2 separate regions of the Homo sapiens genome follow, and region 1 is linked to region 2. Evidence: fine-mapped expression QTL. A gene starts in region 2. The other region holds a variant in brackets. All regions are shown on one strand. Distances are from middle to middle. Region 1 has its middle 7.4 kb from the start of SUN2. Region 2 holds the start of NPTXR (neuronal pentraxin receptor).

The links. PIP is the estimated chance that this variant, and not a neighbour inherited with it, causes the effect. A credible set is the group of variants that fine-mapping cannot tell apart.
Region 1: its variant is the best candidate, but not a certain one, in a credible set for the expression of NPTXR in whole blood (TOPMed, PIP 0.53).

What each region holds. Positions count from the first base shown.
Region 1 is chr22:38,760,665-38,766,035 of GRCh38, reverse strand. No RefSeq gene overlaps it. Among named protein-coding and RNA genes, the nearest start is that of SUN2, 7.4 kb to the right of the region's middle. RefSeq lists enhancers at 4,466-4,515, 5,116-5,165, 4,996-5,371. The variant G/C (reference allele first, on the strand shown) is at 3,105.
Region 2 is chr22:38,841,963-38,847,333 of GRCh38, reverse strand. NPTXR (neuronal pentraxin receptor) reads left to right here and starts at 3,306. Exons shown (of 5, transcript NM_014293.4): 1 at 3,306-4,099. The coding sequence starts at 3,476. RefSeq lists a silencer at 3,718-3,787.

The sequences.
Region 1 (5,371 bases), 81 kb after region 2:
TGCTGTCTGGCCACCTCCTCATTCTACCTGTGGGCCAGTGAGGCTCAGAGAGGTTTGGGCTTTGAGTAGTTGGTCAGAATGGCTGGCAAGCAACCAGCCCACCTACCTGTAGCCTGTCCTAGAGCACTGGATGAGAGCAGGGGCTACTGACTCCCAGCTCATTGGGTGGCCCCTGAGCCCCACTGAGCCCCACTGGAGTCCCCTGTGGCCCCTTCCCCAGGTTGACAGAGCCTTTCCCAATCTGAGCACTTCCAGGGTGACAGTGGCTGCAAGGGCTACATGGTGAGCCCCCCACTGTTACCCCAAGTGGCCTGGGGGAGCCCCTTTCCTACCTTTTCTCCAGGAACCTTCAAGGTCCCAAGGCCTAGCAGAGCTCCTCAGGAGTCTGTGTGTGTGTGTGTTTCGATGTATCCAAGTGTGTCTGTGTGTCTCTAATGTATGTGTGTCTATGTCTTTGTGTATCTCTGTATGTGTCTGTGTGGGGTGTGTGTGCACCTGTGTCTGGAGGTGAACAGAAACCCCTCTTCGTCTCTCCTGAGCGCTGAGAGAGCAGGTGAGAGCCTCCCCTGGGGTGTTCTGTCCTCTGTCACCGTCCATGACCTGGTGATGTCTATGAACCACCACAAGTGAGGTTCCCAGGACTTTAGACACAGACTCAGAGTCTTAGGCCTGGGGAGGGCCCAGGGATACTCAGCCCCACCCCTTCTTGATGCTAAAATGTGCGGCACAGATTATTCATTGAGTCATACTATTTTATTTTATTTTATTTTATTTTATTTTATTTTATTTTATTTTATTTATTTATGTTTCAGACACAATCTTGCTCTGTCGCCCAGGCTGGAGTGCAGTGGCATGATCTCGGCTCACTGCAACCTGCACCTCCTGGGTTCAAGTGATTCTCATGCCTCAGCCTCCCGAGTAGCTGGATTACAGTCGCCCACCGCCACGCCCGGCTAATTTTTGTACTTTTAGTAGAGATGGGGTTTCACCATGTTGGCCAGGCTGGTCTCGAACTCCTGACCTCAAGTGATCTGCCCACCTTGACCTCCCAAAGTGGTGGGATTACAGGCATGAGCCACCACACGCAGCCAAGTCATAATATTTTAAATGATTTTTTAAAAATCATTTGAAATAAAAATAATTTCATTTAACCTTCGTAGTAACCCCACAAACACTCTTGTCCTCTGAGAGGTGGGTGGCTGATGAGGTCCTGTAACGCATAAGGGGCAGCTTCTGTGGACGAGGTTCCACTCCCACACCTGAGGCATGGCTGGTGGGGTCGGGGTGGCCATCCTGCTGCAGGGACAGTCCCCTTCTAGTTCTCACCAGGGCAGAGGGTCACTGAGGCTGAGGCCAGGGTGGCTTCAGTTAGAGATCCCTGTGGCCCCGATACCCAGCGTCCTTCCTGAGGGTTGGGACAGCATCGTCCACCCCAAGGACTAAAAAGCAGGGGGTGTTTCCGGCCGGGCACAGTGACTCACGCCTGTAATCCCAGCACTTTGGGAGGCTGAGGTGGGTGGATCACGAGCTCAGGCATTCAAGACCAGCCTGGCCAACATAGTGAAATCCCGTCTGTACTGAAAATACAAAAATAAAAATAAAAAATTAGCCAGGCGTGGTGGTGGGAGCCTGTAATCCCAGCTACCCCGGAGGCTGAGGCAGGAGAATCACTTGAACCTGGGAGGCGGAGGTTGCAGTGAGCCAAGATTGCGCCACTGCACTCCAGCCGGGATGACAGTGCGAGACTCCGTCTCAAAACAAAAAAAAAAGCTGGGGGTGTTTCCAACAGCCAAAGCCGGGATTGTTTTTCAGCTGCCTGGGGTTCTTTCCCCAGCTGCCCAGCCTGGCATCTTTTCCAGCACAAGAGTGTGGAAGGAGGAGTGTCCCCAACCCCTGTCCGGTGGAGTAGTGTTGCCATCGGACGTGGACCAAGCCAGGCCTCCTGCCCACTGTCGCCAGCTTGACCTTCAGGGTCACTCTGCTTCACAGACAGGAGGACTCCCCAAAGACTGCGTGAAAATCAGCCTTTGTTTATAACACGCTCGCGAGGCTAATAATGAAAAATGAGAGAAGGTGGGGGAGCCTCCACCTCAGCTGCCCTGGTCAAGAAGCCTTGGACTGGCTGGGCGCGATGGCTAATGCCTATAATCCCAGCACTTTGGGAGGCCGAGGCTGGTGGATCAACTAAGGTCAGGAGTTCGAGACCAGCCTGGCTGACATGGCGAAACCCTGTCTGTACTAAAAATACAAAAATTAGCTGGGTGTGGTGGCACATGCTTGTGATCCCAGCTATTCGGGAGGCTGAGGCAGGAGAATCGCTTGAACCCGTGAGGCGGAGGTTGCAGTGAGCCAAGATTGTACCACTGCACTCCAGCCTGGGCGACAAAGCGAGACTCTGTCTCAAAAAAAAAGAAAAAAGAATCTTTTCCCCTCAAGTCCAACAGAGCTTAAAGGTGAAAAAAAAAAAAAAAAAAGGCCAGACGCGGTGGCTCACGCCTGTAATCCCAACACTTTGGGAGGCCGAGGTGGGCAGATCACAAGGTCAGGAGATCGAGATCATCCTGGCTAACACAGTGAAACCCCGTCTCTACTCTCTACTAAAAATACAAAAAATACAAAAAAAAAAAATTAGCTGGGCGTGGTGGCAGACGCCTGTAGCCCCAGCTACTCGGGAGGCTGAGGCAGGAGAATGGTGTGAACCCAGGAGGCGGAGCTTGCAGTGAGCCGAGATTGGGCCACTGTACTCTAGCCTGGGAGACAGAGCGAGACTCCGTCTCGAAAAAAAAAAAAAAAAAAAGAAAAAAAATCTTCCCCCAGCGGACCCAGTGGAGTTACCAGGATGTAATCAATTCCTCCAGAACAAGTGGTGACAACACGGGACACCCAAAAGAGACTCAGTGCCCGGGGTTCAGCCCAGGGGCTGGTTCATGGGCACCCTCTGCCTGGCACGTACCGGAATTCCAGCCCCCCAGAAGGAAAGCCGGCGTGCATCGTGGACACACTGTGTGTAGAAACAGTTCTGGCACTGTGAGCTGGTCTTCTTAGGGAATGGTGGGAATCCTCCCAAAATCCAGCTTCCCAGATGCCAGCCCAGGGCCAGCCTT[G/C]CAAGCAGGCCTTTGTCTCCAGCCTGCTACATTCATTCTTTTCTACACAGTTAGCGGGGAAGGAGGGGAGGGGAGGCCATGAGGCAGAGGGGCAGATAGAGGCCGTGTCACGGGGGCCTCCAGGCCATGGACTTGGCCGTGGGGCTGATGAGCCATGCACGGATGATCGGCTGCAGGCAGGTGGCCGGGTCCAGCCCCTGCTTCAGGAACATCCGCCTGGCAGCTTTGTGGAGGCTGGAGCGGAGAGGAGGGGAGGGGGCAGCCAGGAAGCTGCAGAAACCATCCAGAGTCAAGTTCAGGGATTGAAGCTCACTGGAGAAGAGGACAGCGTAGCAAGAGGCCCCATGGGGGCAGAAGGCCCGTCTGTCTTGGAGGAGGAGGCGGGGCTGTGCCAAGGGGGTCCCAGGGGGAACGGTTTGAGCCTGTGGGAGGGAGAGGGGGGCACAGGATCCAAAAAGCATGTCCTGGGCAGGACTTGGGTGGGCATGGGGTGGGGGCAGGAACCTGGCGCTGAGGGAGCTGAGGAGGGGTGGGGGCTGGCCTGGGGAGAGGCCAGAAGGAGAAGATTAAGAAATTGCCTGAATTACAAATCACCGCAGCCACCTTGGCCCTAAGAGCCAAGCCGTTGAGAATCAAACAGAGGAGGATGGGGTCACCGAGAAAAGAACCTGGGCACAGAAAAGGAGGCGAAAACAGGGGAGCTCCGAGCACCCCAGACTCAAAGAAGAGAGGGAAGACCATGACCCAGGGGACCCTCAGAGCCCGTGTGGCCCAAGCTCGGGAAGCCAGTCCAGGGAACAGAGGAGAGGTCGCCAGAGCAGGCATCAGTTCACACACAGACACACACTTGCACACACATTCACACAAACATGCACACACATTTACACACATATTCACACACATACACATTCACACATTCACACAAACATGCACACACATTCACACACATAATTCTCACACATTCACACACGCACACTCACACATTCACAGTCACACACTCGCACACACACATTCACACACACTCCCCACACACACTCCCCACACACACTCACACTCATACACACACACTTGCACACAGTCACACAAACATGCACACATTCACACACATAATTCTCACACATTCACACAATTCTCACACATTCACACACACTCGCACACATACATGCACACATACATTCACTTTCACTCCCACACACTACCCCACACACACATACATATTCACACACTCGCACACACATTCACACACACTCCCCACACACACTCACACTCATACACACACACATTCACACACTCTCATACATACACTCACACTCACACACACTCTCACCTTCTCACACCCACCTGGAGGTGAGCCTCTCCTGGACATGGAGGGGAGGGGACAGCCCTGGTCCATGGCTCAGTTGATCCTGCCCCACCGTCCCTCCCTTCAGCATCAACAAGGTGCCCTCTCCAGCCCACAGCTCCTGGCCACTATGCCCTACCGCAGAGCCACTTCCTGCGTCTCAAGCCCCTGAGGCCCCGGGCTGGCAGCCGCAGGCCGTCCTGCATATGACGCACAGGTGCATGGACAGGGCCCTGGGAGGTGCCGCCCGACGTGCTTGACTGCAGAGCCGAGTCAAGCCGAGCTGGGCAGCTGCCCACATGCAGCTATGTGCCATCAAGGCCACCCACCCAGACTCCCTACACCTGGATCCCTCTGGCTGTCGGGAAGCACCGTCCCCAGGGAAACAGAGGCACTGGGGGAGGGGCAGTGGGCACAAAGGAGGACTGAATGAACTGGGGTCCCAGGTTCAAATGCCCTCAGCCATAACCAAGGCCCACCAGCCCTCCGGCTTCCCTGGGGACCACCCTCAGTGACTCACTGCGTACAGGCTGCAGTGCTGACAGCTGGGTGCTGAGTGTCCCTGCATGGGAAGCACACAGGCCACACCCACAGCAACACTGCTGTGAGAACTGAAGGCCTAGAGGGTCCTCCCACCTCCTCTGCCTCCACAGACACCTGGCAGGGAAGGGAGCAGGACAATTACTCCCCCTGCTCTACAGACAAAAAAGCCAAGACCAGAGCAGGGGTTGGGGGCTGCAGCCCTGCAGGAGGGAGAGGTGGGTAGACCGGGGAGTTTTTACTGGGGTCGGGGGCACTCGGGTTGTGCTATGGCGTTCCAGCTAGCCCAAGGGACAGAGCTGGAGGTTGCAGTGACAGGGCTGGATGGCCAGAGGCGGCTCTGCCAGCTGTCTCCACGCAGGGGGCCTGGTTCATCTGGCAGCTT
Region 2 (5,371 bases):
AGTAGAGACGGGGTTTCACCATGTTGGCCAGGCTGGCCTAGAACTCCTGACCTCAAACGATCCACCCGCCTTGGCCTCCCAAAGTGCTGGGATTACAGGCATGAGTCACCGCTCCCGGCCCTCTGTTATCTCTTTGTAACCCAGTCTCCAGACAACTGCCAGAGTGGTCTTTTAAAAACACAGTCCAGGTGATATCACTTCCGTGCTTCAGCCCTCCAGTTGGGCTTCGAGTCAGACCCACTCCCTTCCCGGAGCCTGTAAATCTCTACACGGCCCCCACCTTCCTGTCCAGCTTCCTCCCTCCCCTACATCTCACTCTGCCTCTAGCCCCACTCTGTTCCTTCTGTTCCTGAAATATATTACGCTCCTTTCTGCCCCAGGGCCTTTGCACTAGCGGTTCCCTCTGCCTAGAACACACCATCTTTCCCCAGACTTCTGCATGGCTGGTTTCCCAGGTCATTTAGGTCTGAGCTCCAATGCAGGCCTTTTCTGACCACCTTATAAATACTGCCCACCTCCCAATTCCCCCTTCCTACTTCCTGTAACTTTCTATAACATCACTTGAAGATTTTTCTTTGTCATTCTCATCATTATTGGAAATTAACTTGTTTACTTAGTTATTCATTTGTTTACTGCCTGCCTCCCCACTGGAATATAAACTGCGTGAGCTTGTCTTGTTCCCAGCTCTCTCCAATGCTTGGCACTATGCCTGGCACAATGTAGGTCTCAAAACATATTTTCTAAAATGAATTCCTATATTTGTTATATATGGCAGAATTCCCTTGGCCTAAGAATGGAATGAAAGTGAAGAAATTTAAAAAAAAAAAAACTAGGAGTCATGACAATTCAGAGGGAAAATATAGGAACTATTCCAGTTTTAGGGAAGTTCCCCTGAGAATACTTCTCTGCCCATCCCTTGAGGAATCCTGTGTTAGGATTAAGGGGGGTCTCTCCCAGGACCCAGGAGAGACGAGTTTTGGGACTTCTCTGTCCTCTCCTCCTTCCTCTGCCTCCAGCAGTGGCATTAGGAACTAGTTCAGCAAACATTCACCGAGAAGCTTCCCTGGGCAGGCTTCATGCTGAATGCTGGGGATAGAGATGGGCCAAGGAAGAAGGGAGAGGCTGGGCGCCATGGCTCACGCCTGTAATCCCAGCACTTTGGGAGGCCGAGGCAGGTGGATCACCTGAGGTCAGGAGTTCAAGACCAGCCTGGCCAACATATTGAAACTCCATCTCTACTAAAAATACAAAAATTAGCTGGGCGTGGTGGCGTGCACCTGTAGTCCCAGCTACTTGGGAGACTGAGGCAGGAGAATTGCTTGAACCCGCAAGGCAGAGGTTCCAGTGAGCCGAGATCACGCCACCGCACTGCAGCCTGGGTGACAGAGCAAGACTCTGTCTCAAAAATAAAATAAAATAAAAAATAAAGTCATTCTAGGAGATCAACAGACCAGTTTAAACACAATTTGACTCCAGCCTCTGGACCCATTTATCCAAACTGTCCCCAAAGTCTCAGGGGGCAGCTCAGGTAAAGGTGGCACCATTTGGTGCCCAAGTCACAGTGGCTCTGCTGCTCTTGGCAGCAGCCCTCTCTCTTGGCATCTCCTGTCCTTCCCTGGACTTCCTATGACAGTTTCTCCTGGGGATGCTATCTCCGTGTTTCTGTCTTCACGGCACACGTGTAGATGTACCAGGAGTCCCGATGTCTCATGCATCCCCAGGACTTTAGCAGGGCCTACCGCTGGCCTTTGCCTTCCAAGAGCCCAGCCCATCTCTCTGTCCATGAGATGCTTCCTCCAAGCCCAGCTGCCTGCCCTGGGTTTTGAGGTTACGACTTCAGTGAGCACCAGCACACATCCACGCACACACAGCACTCAGGTTCCTGGCATACAGCGCTTGTGTTTGCTTCTCTCCTCTTTCACAACTCAGGTATGGATGAAAATCCCTGGCTCCTAGAGATGGGTGAACAGGGTGGACATCATCCTAACATGTGTGGAGAGAGGGAGGTGGAGCACGTGTGCCTGGGAACACTGGACAAAATCCCCGTGGCTGGAGAGCGTCCCCCAGGGTTGTGGCTTCCTGGGAAACATTCCGGTCTCTCCCCACCACCAGCGCTATGTGAAGTACACTCGAAACCACAGTGGTAGCCGTGGTGGTCCAGAGATCCTGGTTTGCGCTTTCCCTTCAAGTCAAAAATGCAGGCTTGGAAGGGAGACAGAGCTGGGAATAACCACAGCCCTCCCAAGGCCCTTCCAGCCCTGGGAATCCGTATTGGTCAGGAAAGACCTCATGGAAAATTGGAGCTGGGGATAAAGTGTGGAGGATAGTAGGATTGTTTTTAAGTTTTTAATTGCAAAGTTAATTTTCAACAAAATATATATAGACATTTTTGACAGAAGAAAGTAAAACGCTCCTCTGCCACCCCCACAGCACAGCCCACTCCCATTCCTGCTGTTCCTTCTGGGCCTGGTCCACATGCCCACCAGGCACGTGGCACCGCTTGCCAACGAAGGCAGACTGCAGTGGGGGTGGGGGGTTTCTCTGGACCTGTGAGGCTCTAAGCCCCCAAGGATTCAGAGGAGAGAATTTCCATCATCCTCTGAGATCACAGGAAGATTCTGTAATGAGGGTGGCGGGGAGTGAACTCTGCTCCTTCAGAAGGTTGGAGGTGGGGGTGACGGGCAGGTGGCCACAGTATAAACAGAAGTTAGGTCAAAATCCGAGCCTCCCCCCAACCCCCAACACTGGCCTCTTCTCCACCTCTAACCGCTCCCACTCCAGCCCCATCCACAGTCTGGTCCGGTGAAACGTGCCTAAGCTCGCAGGCGGCTCCAACGCAGCCACCCGGTGACCTTGGACAGAGGCCTGACCTCAGGTGTCTCAGTTTCCTCATTTCTATTGTGAGCCTGTCCACGGCAAGGCTCAATTGCGACCGAGCTTGTGGCGCGCCCAGTGCACAGCCCCACCCGGAAGAAAGCTCCCTCCCGGGTGGATGTGAACATAACCGGCTTGGGGAGGGGGCCCGAGCACGGGAGGGCTGGGATGGGGGTCACCCAGGAGCCCCGCCGCGCGGCCCTCGGGTCGCCGGCCCCTGCGCTGTGACCGCGGCGAGATAAGGTCCCAGGCGCTGCCCTCGCTCCTCGCCGCATCCCCGGCGGCGCCCCCAGCCGGGCGCCCGGCACTGAACGGGTGCGGGGCTGGGCCGGGGCCAGGGCCGGCCCGGGGAAGCGAGTGGGGCGGGGCCGCCGCGCCCGCTCCCCCTCCCCGCCGCCTGCCGTCTTCTCCTCCTCCCGCCGCCCGGGCTCAGAGCGGCGGCAGCAGCGGCCGCGGCGACAGCTCCAGCTCCGGCTCCGGCTCCGGCTCCGGCTCCGGCTCCCGCGCCTGCCCCGCTCGGCCCAGCGCGCCCGGGCTCCGCGCCCCGACCCCGCCGCCGCGCCTGCCGGGGGCCTCGGGCGCCCCCGCCGCCCGCCTCACGCTGAAGTTCCTGGCCGTGCTGCTGGCCGCGGGCATGCTGGCGTTCCTCGGTGCCGTCATCTGCATCATCGCCAGCGTGCCCCTGGCGGCCAGCCCGGCGCGGGCGCTGCCCGGCGGCGCCGACAATGCTTCGGTCGCCTCGGGCGCCGCCGCGTCCCCGGGCCCGCAGCGGAGCCTGAGCGCGCTGCACGGCGCGGGCGGTTCAGCCGGGCCCCCCGCGCTGCCCGGGGCACCCGCGGCCAGCGCGCACCCGCTGCCGCCCGGGCCCCTGTTCAGCCGCTTCCTGTGCACGCCGCTGGCTGCTGCCTGCCCGTCGGGGGCCCAGCAGGGGGACGCGGCGGGCGCTGCGCCGGGCGAGCGCGAAGAGCTGCTGCTGCTGCAGAGCACGGCCGAGCAGCTGCGCCAGACGGCGCTGCAGCAGGAGGCGCGCATCCGCGCCGACCAGGACACCATCCGTGAGCTCACCGGCAAGCTGGGCCGCTGCGAGAGCGGCCTGCCGCGCGGCCTCCAGGGCGCCGGGCCCCGCCGCGACACCATGGCCGACGGGCCCTGGGACTCGCCTGCGCTCATTCTGGAGCTGGAGGACGCCGTGCGCGCCCTGCGGGACCGCATCGACCGCCTGGAGGTGAGCGCCGCGCGCCGTCGGGGGAGCCGCCCGGGTGGTGTGAGGGGCCGCCCGGCCGCGGTCGTCCGGCGGTCCCCGAGCCTCCGGTCTCCCGTCTGTGTTCCGGGGACGATCGCGCCTTCCTCGCTGGCGAGGCGGGGGGATTTCGATAGGGAACGCGGGCAGGCGTCTGGCACGGTGACTGAGGCACAGAGGGCGCGCCAGAAAGATTCGCTCCCCACCCTTTTCCGTCTCCAGGCACCTCTCTGAGCCTCAGTTTCTGTGTCTGTAAAATAGGTATAACAGTGTCCACTTGTAGTGGAAATTGAATCAAATGTAGGTGTGTGAAAATGCTTGGCACGTACTAGGACCTCATTAAATGTCCCTTTCATTTCCTTCTTCCGGACACCCCCAAATCAGCCCAGCTCCACGCTCACACTTTATGGCCAGGAGATGGATGCGCTGTCCAAAGGACTTGGGGTCCTCCCCTCATTACACAGAGCCGGGAACAGAGTGCCCTATAAGACAAACCTGGGTGCCCCTCACCACCTCCCTACCCTGAATCTCCCACTCTGGCTCAGACTATGACCCAAACCGCAGGAGCTCAGGTGCCAGGCGCCCAGCCTCACACACCTGGAAGCCCACAGCTCTTGGGTGGGGGCTGAATGGAGAACAGGGCCCCCCGAGCTCCTCCTCCTCCACTCACTTTTCCAGGCTTTCCTGACTCAGGCTTGGGGTCAGACACAAGGGGTCCAGCATGGGGGAACCCACTCTTGGCTCTCATGTGACCCTGGGCCAGTCATTTCCCCCCTGGAGTCCCATGGCCACCTTCCTCCCTGTAAGAATGAATTTGGGGCTCCCAGAAGTGCAAGGCAGACAGACTGGGCAGGACAAACATCCGGGACACATTCACTACCCCAGCCATGGCCTGACTTCCAGACCACAAGGAAGGGGGTTAAGCAACAAAATCAGATCTGTGGAAGGAAGAGAGAGAAAGAGGCCAAAGCCCGCGCTGCCCCCTCTGCTACCTCCACCCAGGTGGAGTGCAGCAGGCAAGTTGGAGGGAGGAGAGAGGCGGGGAGTAAATGCAGGGACCCCTTACTCCCGGGGCTTTTTAAGTTAAATCCTGGGCAAGCAGCACTGGTGATGCCCACTCACAAGGCTGAGGATGTCGTGGTCTGACAGCCCTCCAGGACGTCTGTACTGGTGTCAGCACCCTCCCCACAGGGTGTCAGAGTGCAGCCAGTCAGCCATTGCAGCCAACCCCTCACCTTACGGATGAGAAAACTCAGC